3 separate regions of the Homo sapiens genome follow, and regions 1 and 3 are each linked to region 2. Evidence: fine-mapped expression QTL. A gene starts in region 2. Each other region holds a variant in brackets. All regions are shown on one strand. Distances are between the middles of the regions.

Region 1 (4,358 bases), 140 kb before region 2:
TTGCGACTGCATAGTATTCCATGGTGTATATGTACATATTTTCTTTTTCCAGTCTATCATTGATGAGCATTTAGGTTGATTCCATGTCTTTGCTATTGTGAATAGTGCTGCAATGAACATATGCATGCATGTATCTTTATAATAGAATTATTCTATTTCTTTAGATATATATACAGTAATGGGATTGCTGGGTCCGATGGTATTTCCGGTTCTAGGTCTTTAAGGAGTCACCACACTGTTTTCCACAGTGGTTGAGCGAATTTACACTCCCACTAACAGTGTAAAAGCATTCCTTTTTCTTTGCATCCTCACCAGCATCTGTTGTTTTTTGACTTTTTAATAGCCATTCTGACTAGCATGAGATGGTATCTCATATGTTAGTTGGCTGCACTTATGTCTTCTTTTGAGAAGTATCTGCTCATGTCCTTTGCCCAGTTTTTAATGGGCTTGTTTGTTTCTTCCCTGTAAATGTGTTTAAGTTCCTTGTAGACTCTGGATATTAGACCTTTGTCAAATGGATAGATAGCAAAAATTTTCACCCATTCTGTAGGTTTTCTGCTAACTCCAACGATAGTTTCTTTTGCTGTGCAAAAGCTCTTTAGTTTAAGTAGACCCCGTTTGTCAATTTTTGCTTTTGTTGCAATTGCTTTTGGAGTCTTTGTCATGAAATCTTTGTCTGTTGCTATGTCCTGAATTGTATTGCCTACATTTTCTTCTAGGATTTTTATAGTTTTTGGGTTTTACATTTAAGTGCCTAGTTTACTTAAGAGTTTTTCAATACCTAGTTTATTGAGAGTTTGTAACATGATGTCCCTAATTTTTTAACCATGATTAAAAGAAATTTTAAAATCCTTCTAACCAAGCTTGAGCCATATAGCATTTAATATTCTTTATGGGAAAATTTGTTTGGGATCTATATATTCTACTAACATGACATTTTCCAGGCTTTGAACTACAATATGGTTTATTTCTTGAAGTTTTGCTTTTACAAGTGTAATTTTGACATTGCATAATGTGAGTTTTTTGTAATGTACAGTTACATTTCTTGTATTCTTATAGCAACCAAGTCGTGCCAGAAAGCAGCTTGTAATCTATTTCTTAAAGATTGTTAAGAGAAGTAGAAAATCTAAAGAAGCATATTAAGCATCCCTTGACAATTTGACACTAGCAAACTGCCTTCCTCAATTGCTTGTCCCCATTCCCAGAGGATTGCTAAGGAATTCTTATTGCTGTTCCGTGAATATATATTTCACAATGAACAATACGCTGTTTTTAAAAAAATTGCTTTTTTACACCTAATGGCATACACCTGCACGTTAATCAGAGATAAAAGCTCATCATGAATATTGAATTGCTAGAAAATGCTCTTCAGGGGAAATATTTCTATCTATATTTTTAAACTTGTTTGTTTTGCTTATTGAAGTGTAATTAACATAAAGTAAAATTCATGCTTCTTAGGTGTATAGTTCTGTGAATTTTGACAAATTTATATAGTCAGGCTGGGAACATTTCCATCATCCTAAGTTTCCTTATAATTATTTGTAGTCAATCCTCTTTCCCCACACCCAGCCCTGGCAACTGCTGACCTGATTTCTATCTCAAGAGTCTTGCCTTTTCCAGAATGCTGTATAAAATCCTACAGTATATAGCCATCTTGAGTCTGGCTTCTTTCATGTAGCATAATGCCTTGAGATTTTTCCATGTAGAAATATATCAGTATGTATCATTGCTTTTTTATGAGTAGTAGTCCATGTGGGGATGTACCACAGTTTGTTCATCTATTCATTCACCTTATAAAATGGTTCACTAGTAATAATTTCATTATTATTAAATTTAGCTGTTATTTTATGTATTCTTATACAAAAAGGTAACTATATGGGGTGACAGTTATGTTAATTAGCTTGATTGTTGTGGTTATTTCATATTGTATATGTATATAAAATTTTCAAATTGTATACCATAAATATATACAATTATTTGTCAATCAGTTATCAATAAAGCTGAAAAATATATGATGAAAAAGTT[T/G]AATTTATTTCAGGAAGGACTAAATATACCATGATGATTAAAGGAGTAAAACCTCAATTAGTGCAAAGAAGTTTAATAAAATTCAGCACTCAGACATAACAAAATGTCTTTGCAAGCTAGGATTTATGAGAATCTTCTCATGTATACAACACACAAACACAAGAAATAGAAACACTTCTTCTCAACAAGATGCCCATGATCACTACTTCCATTCCATACTGTATTGGAGGTCCTAGCCAGTGCATGCATAGCACAAAAAGAAATAAAATATATAAGTCTTGAAAAGAAAGAAACTTTTCAATATTTCTATTAGTCCGTTTTCATGCTGCTGATAAAGACATGCCTGAGATTGGGAAGAAAAAGAGGTTTAATTGGACTTACAGGTCCACATGGCTGGGAGGCCTCAGAATCATGGCGGGAGGCAAAAGGCACTTCTTACATGGCAGCAGCAAGAGAAAATGAGGAAGAAGCAAAAGCGGAAACCCCTGATAAACCCATCAGATCTTGTGAGACTTATTAACTATCAGGAGAATAGCATGGGAAAGACTGGCCCCCATGATTCAATTACCTCTCCCTGGGTCCCTCCCACAACACGTGGGAATTCAGGGAGATACAATTCAAGTTGAGATTTGGATGGGGACACAGCCAAACCATATCAATATTCATAGTGCATATTATTGACTACATAGAAAATTCAAAAGAATCTATAGGTAAATACTTTGAATTAATAAGAATATTTAGCAAAGTGGCTTGATACATGACAAAAATGCAAAAATTACTGCATTTCTATACATCAGCATCAGAGTTAGAAAATACTTTCAAAATATACAAGGATTAAATAATAAAAAGATGGAGCAAATTGTAAAATTTAAAGGACAGGAATATTCAGTATCTTAAAGATTTTTATTCTTTCTCCATTATTTGTAGTTTCACTTATTTGTCATCAAAATTCTAACAAGATTTTGGCAAGCTGTTTCTGAAATTTACATAGAAGAACAAAAGGCTAAGAATAACCAAAGCAATTCTGAAGAAGAATAAAGTGGGGAAACTTTATCTACCAGAATCATGACTTATTATATAGGAATAATAGTAAAGCAAGATATTAGCACTGGGATAGACAACAGATAAAGGAAAGAATGGAGCAAGATACTCATGCATATATACAAATTTGGCATATGGCAAAAGTAACAATAAAATTCACTAGAGAAGGAATCAACTATATAATAAAAAATATTATGACAATTGAGTTTTTTATTTTTAATTTTTTAAATTTTTCTTTCAGAGGTAGGGTCTCATTATGTTGCCCAGACTGGACTCCAACAACTCCTAGCCTCAAGCAATTCTCCCACTTAAGCCTCCTTATTAGCTGGGACTGCAGACATGTGCCACTGCACCCAGCAAGTTGATTTTTTATTTAAAAAATAATGAAATTTGATCCCCTCCTCACACCTACATGAAAACAAATTTCAAATGAATTTAAAATGTGAATATAAAAGGCAATAGTTTAACACTTTTGGAAGAAAACACAGGAGAATATTTTTAACGTCTTAAGAGAACATATTCTTAAATAAGGCTGAAAGAGTGCAACCCCACAAAAGAAAAATGTATAAATTTGACCACATTAAAATAAGAAGTGTTGGTACATCAAAGAACATTATAAAGAAAATGACAACCCATGCAGTGAGAGAAAATATTTGTAACCCATATAGCTGACAAAGAATTTGTATTCTCTAAGTCGATTAAATAAAAGCCAAGAAAACAATAGTAAAATGGGCCAGAGACTTAATCAGACAATCCCAAAAGGAAAAGCACAAATAGTTTTGAAACATATAAAAATATGGCCGACATCATTACTTCTCCATAAAACACTTATTAATTTTAAAGGGTACAAGAGAAACTTTTCAGTAGAAAAGCATGGTAACCTTGTGATCAAAATCAACATCATCAGTAATGGTACAAATTGAAACCATACACCACCTTGATCAAATGCAATAGGAACACAGCAGCACTTCTGTAATAGTCCTACCAAAGGTGCACAACTTTAATCAAAGCATGAGGAAATCTCAAACAAACTCAAATTAAGTACATTCCATTAAATTAACTGGCCAATTATCATCAGAAGTACCTCAAGAAATGACTGAGGAACTAAGGAAGAAGCCTAAAGTGATGTAACTGCTAAAGTATTGTGTGATTTGGGACATTTTGAGGTAAAGGACATTAGTGGAAACTGAATGGAGGTTGAAAATTAGATGGCAGCAATGTATCGATGTTAATTTTCTGTTTTGACGGTTGTATTGTGCTTAAGTAGGAGAATGTTTAGAAGGACATTTATG
Region 2 (4,000 bases):
AAGAATAAATAATTCACTGCAAAAACACATTGATTTCCAAATGATGTAACTGACAGTTATATTACTGCAGAGGGCTGATAAATAACAAAAGAAATGAAAGATGCACATGGTGAGAACTGAAATTATCCTGACAAGTCTTCTACCTGTTTATCACTTAAAATCAATGACCATGCTGAATGCCTACAAATTACAAAATATAAAAGAAATCTTATAAATGCGCATGTACAGGAGTCTAAGTTACTAAAAGTTTTAAAGCATAAGTTTAAACCAAACTAATCAAAGAAGTTGAGAGGAAAAATTGGCTTTCATCTTTAATCACTACTGTTTTGAGGTCCTATGTTTAATATAATTTTCTAAGTAGAGGCTTCAGAGAGAAGAGTTGTGAGGATACTTTCATATTTGTGTAGAAGGAAAAGTTTGCCATCCATTCTAGTATCCCTAGTGTTATACTGATGTGCACCTTGGATTTATTTTGTTCCTATTGTATAAACTCATACTTGACTTCAAAGAAAAGGAAAATCCAAAGTCCCTCTTTTCTAAGGGGACAGAAATCCTTTGTGTCAACTGTTTGACCCTTTTCTCTGTAAGGTCCTATTGGAAATCTTTTGTAACACAATGCAGGGGACTCTTCCATGTGTTGATGCTGTTTACACAGTGGGGTGGGCCTGACTGAAGAAAAAAAATCGCATATACGCATGAAAGATTATGGTCTTATTTCCGGAAAGCATGAAAGGTGATTGATACTTCCAAGAAGTCCCTGTTACTCAGGAAAATTATCAAATATTCTACTCAGAGATACTTGGAAAGACTGAAGGAAAGGAAGAACGAAGAAAGCAGAATCTAGACTTATGTGGGGAGAGATTTGTGGCAGAGGAAAAGTATTCTCTTTGAATCCGACAAGGGATTTGCCTGGGGGAATTTCCTGTCCAGCCTTTTATTACCAGGGTCTTTTGAAGCCGGGCTCCCCATTGGGCAGTTCCCTGGGAGTGCAGTGGGGAATTCTTACACTTTCCCTCTAGGTCCCCGAAGGATCTCGTTTTCTCAGTGTCTCTTTCAGGTTGGCAGGAGCCTTGAGCCTGACACTTCCCTTTGATGGGACAGGCAAGCTCTGTGGGCGCGTAAACACGCTGTAACCAAGTTCTTTGCTGATTTTACAGTTTTGTGTGCTCCCGAGAAGAAGTGATCGTACTCAATTGTCTATTGCTGGCCTGCCCCCTAAGAGCCTGGGGGCTCCTTTCCCCTAACCCAGAACTAGCTGCACGGGGGGCGGGGAAATGGGGGTGGGGAAGGAGTGGGAGGGCAGTGGTTTCCGCGAGCAGAGCGATGTTACTGAGTGAGTCCCTGAATGGGGAGCGCTGCTGTCCCCAAGCCGATTGGTACTTCTTGTCAGGAAGAAACGCCAAGAGGTGGGAGTGCCTGGGGAGGGAGGCAGGCGGTCCCTACCGCAGGCGCGGGGAGCTGCCTTTCCGCCCCTCCGCCTGCTTTCCAAGCCTGGACTCTTAGGAGTGGCTGAAGCTGCGGAGCGCTTTTGGAGCCTGTGAATGAACCCTCCTCCTCTCCCTCCTCCTTCTTCTCGCTGAGTCTCCTCCTCGGCTCTGACGGTACAGTGATATAATGATGATGGGTGTCACAACCCGCATTTGAACTTGCAGGCGAGCTGCCCCGAGCCTTTCTGGGGAAGAACTCCAGGCGTGCGGACGCAACAGCCGAGAACATTAGGTGTTGTGGACAGGAGCTGGGACCAAGATCTTCGGCCAGCCCCGCATCCTCCCGCATCTTCCAGCACCGTCCCGCACCCTCCGCATCCTTCCCCGGGCCACCACGCTTCCTATGTGACCCGCCTGGGCAACGCCGAACCCAGTCGCGCAGCGCTGCAGTGAATTTTCCCCCCAAACTGCAATAAGCCGCCTTCCAAGGTAATCACGTTTCTTTTGTTCCCCCCTTAAAAAACAAAAACAAAAAACTTATAGAAAAAAACCCGCGAGCTTAGAAAAAAGAAGCAATTGGTAGAAGGCTTTAATTAAGGCAAAGAGCTGTAAGGCGAAGTTAAGAAAATGTAGGCACTTAAAAAATGCAGGTAACTTTCATAAGGGCTTTTGGGGAGAGGCATACAGAGGGACCTTGGTGTTGAAAAAGATTCAGACAAAAGAAACCCAGGGTGGGGTGGGGGGTAAAATGACTAACGGAATTGGGGGAAGGGAGGGAATAAATTGTAAAGAAATCATAGAAAAGTGGTGGGTTCTTGAGCTGGAGAGAAGAGAGGGACCTTTGGCACTTTGATTTTTTTGTTGTTGTTGTTCTTAACACGCTCGAGGCAAAAGTTTGAATGGGGACTACCAAGACTTGCCACAGACAAGTCCCCGAAGCCGCCTTGGTGCAGGCCACCTGGTTTCCCAGCCCCTGGTGTGTGGTCAGTGCCTGGTGTTCCTGGAAAGCCACTCCCGGGCAGCTCCTGACAGTGCGACCCGGCGCCCAAGCAGCCTGGGACCTTGCGCGGACCTGACCCCTTCAGACCGCAGGCAGTCTGGGAGGAGGTCCGGCCGGGGGAGGTGCAGGATCCCCGCCGTGTCTCTTTGACGACTTGGGGACTGTCACGGTTCTCTCCCGGCGCCCCTGGGTTCTTTTGTCCTGCACGCGGTGCGAAGGGGCCAGCAGGGAAGGAGCAGAGGATGGGGGGTGGGGTTGTTGGAGCCCCGCGGAGGTCTGGGAGGCCCCTGGGCGGGAAAAGCCTGTTCTGAATCGGCAGGGATGTGCAACAATTTTTCTCACCCTGAAGAGTGAAATAGGGTCTGTCGCTCCCATCTCAACAAGCAAACCGGCACCCAGAGCGCACTGCAGACAAAGGTGGCTCGGGGACCCGAATCAGGGGCCTCTGGGTCAGTCCTCTCGCCCAGACTACAGGAGTCCTCCGTTTCCTTACATATTCCCCACCCTCTCCTAGTTCTCCGCTCTAGTTGAGCAACTTTACTGGCAGGTCTAGCGGCAGCGGCGCGCGCGTGTGCCGGGAGCCCCGGGGGACGTCCTCGGCTGGAGCGCCCCACCGTCCTGCAGAGGCGTGGGCGCTGTAGGGCGACATCCCTGGTGCGTGCAGACCTAGGGCATCCGGGTTGTTCTGGCCCGCGGTCTGTGTCACTGGGCGTGGAGCGGTCTGGGTGTTAGGCAGAGGAGAGCGGGGTAGAAAAATAGTGTCATAGCCTAAACTATTTGCTCTCCAATCCAACTGCGTCTCGGCAAGTCCTGCATGTCCCTGGGAGATGCTGCGGGAAGGGGGAGAAATCTACACGGCGCCTGGAGAGTTGTCCTGCCGCGCGCACACCCGCGGCAGAGTCTCTCTGGGTCGCGTTCCTCATCTTTGTGTCTCCCTCTGTCTCCATCTTCTCTGCCTCCCTTCCCCTCTCCCAGCCTCTGTTCTCTCTCTCTAGCTTCTGCGTCCCCTCCCCCACAGCTGACAAATGAATGGCTAGTGTGAAATCCCTGCCTTTCCCGTGCTCCAAGGCAGCAGGGAGGGAGGAGCGAGGGAGGCGGTGCGCTCCTTCGGATCTGCCCCCAGTTCAGCTCACAAGACTTGCAGAACCTAGATGTCTAGGAATTGGGAGTTTTGCGGCGGGTGTGGGCGCCCCCTGATGGAGAAGTCCCGCACAGGCGGAGAAAAACAAGCCCCCCAGACCAAGCGAGCATCTTTCACAACCTTGTGTTCAAGGATGGAAGGCCCTAGTTTTCCCTTAAGTCATTCATTTTGCACTCCACAATCTGCGGCGTACATCTAGGAGTTTGGAGGACCCTGAAAAAAGGTCTTGGTCTGTGCAAAGTGCAGAGATGCCTTCTCGCGAGTCGGCTGGAACGCACGCGGCGCCCTGGGTCCAGTTCGCCGCTTAGTGGACGAACGCACATGGCCAGGGTGGAGCCAGGTTTCGGAGGTCTAGACGCGCCACCCTGGGCGTCTTTAAGAAAGATAATACACATACCGTGCTCTCAAAACCCATGACCACTTGAACCCAAC
Region 3 (4,358 bases), 110 kb after region 2:
AGAATGGACTACCGTGCTATAACAACTACTAGACACCTTCATTTTACGGCTGTGGTATCGGCAGTTTAGGGTATGGAGCAAGTAATATTGTGTGTTTTCTTTTTTTCTTTCTTTCCTTCCATGTAGCATCTGCATACCAAAGGACTTATTCTATGAAATACTTTAAAAATTCCTCATCAGCAAAGGACAATTCAATAAATACATCCAAACATGATCATCGTTGGAGCCGGAGGTGGCAGGAGTCGAGGCGCTGATCCCTAAAATGGCGAACATGTGTTTTCATCATTTCAGCCAAAGTCCTAACTTCCTGTGCCTTTCCTATCACCTCGAGAAGTAATTATCAGTTGGTTTGGATTTTTGGACCACCGTTCAGTCATTTTGGGTTGCCGTGCTCCCAAAACATTTTAAATGAAAGTATTGGCATTCAAAAAGACAGCAGACAAAATGAAAGAAAATGAGAGCAGAAAGTAAGCATTTCCAGCCTATCTAATTTCTTTAGTTTTCTATTTGCCTCCAGTGCAGTCCATTTCCTAATGTATACCAGCCTACTGTACTATTTAAAATGCTCAATTTCAGCACCGATGGCCATGTAAATAAGATGATTTAATGTTGATTTTAATCCTGTATATAAAATAAAAAGTCACAATGAGTTTGGGCATATTTAATGATGATTATGGAGCCTTAGAGGTCTTTAATCATTGGTTCGGCTGCTTTTATGTAGTTTAGGCTGGAAATGGTTTCACTTGCTCTTTGACTGTCAGCAAGACTGAAGATGGCTTTTCCTGGACAGCTAGAAAACACAAAATCTTGTAGGTCATTGCACCTATCTCAGCCATAGGTGCAGTTTGCTTCTACATGATGCTAAAGGCTGCGAATGGGATCCTGATGGAACTAAGGACTCCAATGTCGAACTCTTCTTTGCTGCATTCCTTTTTCTTCACTTACAAGAAAGGCCTGAATGGAGGACTTTTCTGTAACCAGGAACATTTTTTAGGGGTCAAAGTGCTAATAATTAACTCAACCAGGTCTACTTTTTAATGGCTTTCATAACACTAACTCATAAGGTTACCGATCAATGCATTTCATACGGATATAGACCTAGGGCTCTGGAGGGTGGGGGATTGTTAAAACACATGCAAAAAAAAAAAAAAAAAAAAAAAAAGAAATTTTGTATATATAACCATTTTAATCTTTTATAAAGTTTTGAATGTTCATGTATGAATGCTGCAGCTGTGAAGCATACATAAATAAATGAAGTAAGCCATACTGATTTAATTTATTGGATGTTATTTTCCCTAAGACCTGAAAATGAACATAGTATGCTAGTTATTTTTCAGTGTTAGCCTTTTACTTTCCTCACACAATTTGGAATCATATAATATAGGTACTTTGTCCCTGATTAAATAATGTGACGGATAGAATGCATCAAGTGTTTATTATGAAAAGAGTGGAAAAGTATATAGCTTTTAGCAAAAGGTGTTTGCCCATTCTAAGAAATGAGCGAATATATAGAAATAGTGTGGGCATTTCTTCCTGTTAGGTGGAGTGTATGTGTTGACATTTCTCCCCATCTCTTCCCACTCTGTTTTCTCCCCATTATTTGAATAAAGTGACTGCTGAAGATGACTTTGAATCCTTATCCACTTAATTTAATGTTTAAAGAAAAACCTGTAATGGAAAGTAAGACTCCTTCCCTAATTTCAGTTTAGAGCAACTTGAAGAAGAGTAGACAAAAAATAAAATGCACATAGAAAAAGAGAAAAAGGGCACAAAGGGATTGGCCCAATATTGATT[CT/C]TTTTTTATAAAACCTCCTTTGGCTTAGAAGGAATGACTCTAGCTACAATAATACACAGTATGTTTAAGCAGGTTCCCTTGGTTGTTGCATTAAATGTAATCCACCTTTAGGTATTTTAGAGCACAGAACAACACTGTGTTGATCTAGTAGGTTTCTATTTTTCCTTTCTCTTTACAATGCACATAATACTTTCCTGTATTTATATCATAACGTGTATAGTGTAAAATGTGAATGACTTTTTTTGTGAATGAAAATCTAAAATCTTTGTAACTTTTTATATCTGCTTTTGTTTCACCAAAGAAACCTAAAATCCTTCTTTTACTACACTGTGACTGGTCTGGTTATTTACAACTTTAAATCCTTATGTGCACCAACATTTTTACATTCTGGTTCCATCATGGAGAGCAAGCTTCTAACCTGGATGAAATGATTTTGTGGCAAGCAAAGAAATGATTATATATTTACCCGTAAAAGTTGCGATAATAATTCTGATAATGTTTTCATCTGAATACTATGTATTAATTTCAAATATGGAAACTATGCAATGGGAAAAGTGATAGCTCACATCACAGAAATCTTCCTATGAACCAAGGCAAGTATTTTACATGTAATATATCATAACAAGCTTATGAAACAGGGGTCATCATTACTGACTGATAAGGGATCGGGCATAGAGGGCTCGTTATTTGTCCAAAATCATGCAGTTAGTGTGTAGCAGAAGCAGGTAATCCCTACAGCCCACACAGAATTTCCAAGAAAAATGTAAAATATTATATCCCTGATTGTTATGCATTTAAGAGGTTATCACCCATTCAGATATCCATCCGTTCCTTCAGTTTTCATTCATTCATTATTTAAGGATTTAATGTGTGCCAGGCACCGTAATAGGCTCTGAAGATTCACCAGTGGATGCGGTAGACAGGTTTCTGCCCACATAAAGTTTTTATACTGGCTGCATCCCATGGAAATTATCATAGAACCCATTCTATTCAGTATCTTTATTGATAATCTGGAAGAACCAATACATTTTATGCTCCAAAGTTATATCAAAGATATAAAGGTCAAAGGTGAGCTGAAAATTATTTTAAGGTTCTTTCTAGAAATGTCAAAAATATACAGGGAGTTTGGCATGAATAAGTGTGGAAGAGAAGAGATTATTTTCCTTTCTGAGCTTGTCCTTTTAGTGTGCACTCTGTCATATCTTTTACATAGAATTTAAATATGATCCAAGGGAATATATAAGAATTTATAATAATTGTGCATATATAGCCTTCTGAGATTATTGGTGGATCTAGGTACAAATAACAGAATCTGTGGGATGAACAGAATACTGGGACAGAGTGAGACATTAAAAAAGACTTACACTAGTCAAAGGCAGCAAGAAGTGGTTCTTTGTCCATTTTTAAAGGTTAAGTGGCATATCAGAGGGAAGAATGTGCCCCTGCGTTGGGGGCTATTTAAGAAGAGGTGGTCTTCCAGGGTAGCTGTATTACTAAAGAGGTAAGAGAGATTGTATAGGGAGAGGTGCATCATTTTAATGTGATGGTAAGTAGACCTTTGCTGATCTTAAGTAAATTTTCAATAAAGTACCAAGAGTAGGAACTGAATTAGCCACAAGCTATTTGCCCGGAAATCATATATCATGTACAATAAACTCACAGAGTTTGCAAATAAACAGAAAAAAATAAAGTAGTTGTAAAAAAGTTCCGGGTTAATTTTGTGCATGACTATTTCCCATGAAAAGGATCTATGAGAGAATATATTCTAGATAAGGGAAAAAGATGTTATTATCAAGTGGCTAAAGACTCAGTGATGAATACAACATTTGTAAAGTGTTTCCTTTTATGTTTCTTAATATTAGAAATGCAGTGAAATTGTTTCTGAAAAAAAAAAGGTTGGCAGTGATATGTTAGCACTGATATTGGTGCATCTTTCTTTTTACTGTATTGCAACTTGCATTTTCTCTAAACAAATCAGAATTCATCCAAATGATTCTTTTCTGAAACAAGTCTAAACAGAACATTTATAAAGGTCCTTGAGTGAGTCATTCAAGATTGTATAATCTTTTCCCATTATTACTCATTTCTGTATGTTTAGATCCCAGCTGGACAAGAAAGAGCAAATGCCAAAATAGAACAAGAATGGTTTTGTTGAGGTGTTTACAGAATAAGCAAAGCCTGGGTTTTAATTGGAATTTAATTCAGAGTTCTGTCTGAGTCCATCAAATGATCCCTGTTGAAGATTAAAAGTTTACTGCCTTAGGCAGTAAGTCTTAAATTATTTTTGATAGTATTTATTTAAAAATTTTAAAAACTATGTACCTCTCACATTTTAAGTTGTCAACAAAATTTTTTTTCATCATAAAGTTATACAACTATAGAGGATGTAATTTTTGACCTATTTTAAATATTGTCATTCTAAAATAAGCATGTAATATCACTTTCAGGATATATTCAGTGGAATCTAAATATCATAGTGGTTTGACCTCTTACATCATTCTTTTAAAAGTAGTCTTTTATTAAGAGTCAAAAATTTTATATTTTTGTTTTCGTTGGACTAATT

The links. PIP is the estimated chance that this variant, and not a neighbour inherited with it, causes the effect.
Region 1: its variant is the best candidate, but not a certain one, in a credible set for the expression of VCAN in whole blood (TOPMed, PIP 0.79).
Region 3: its variant is the best candidate, but not a certain one, in a credible set for the expression of VCAN in whole blood (INTERVAL, PIP 0.84).

The regions. Positions count from the first base shown.
Region 1 is chr5:83,325,650-83,330,007 of GRCh38, forward strand. All of the region lies in intron 7 of XRCC4 (X-ray repair cross complementing 4), which reads left to right. Among named protein-coding and RNA genes, the nearest start is that of VCAN, 140 kb to the right of the region's middle. The variant T/G (reference allele first, on the strand shown) is at 2,026.
Region 2 is chr5:83,470,108-83,474,107 of GRCh38, forward strand. VCAN (versican) reads left to right here and starts at 1,637. Exons shown (of 15, transcript NM_004385.5): 1 at 1,637-1,916. RefSeq lists an enhancer at 2,066-2,938.
Region 3 is chr5:83,580,181-83,584,538 of GRCh38, forward strand. It overlaps VCAN (versican), which reads left to right. Exons shown (of 15, transcript NM_004385.5): 15 at 127-2,122. The coding sequence ends at 254. Among named protein-coding and RNA genes, the nearest start is that of VCAN-AS1, 20 kb to the left of the region's middle. The variant CT/C (reference allele first, on the strand shown) is at 1,795.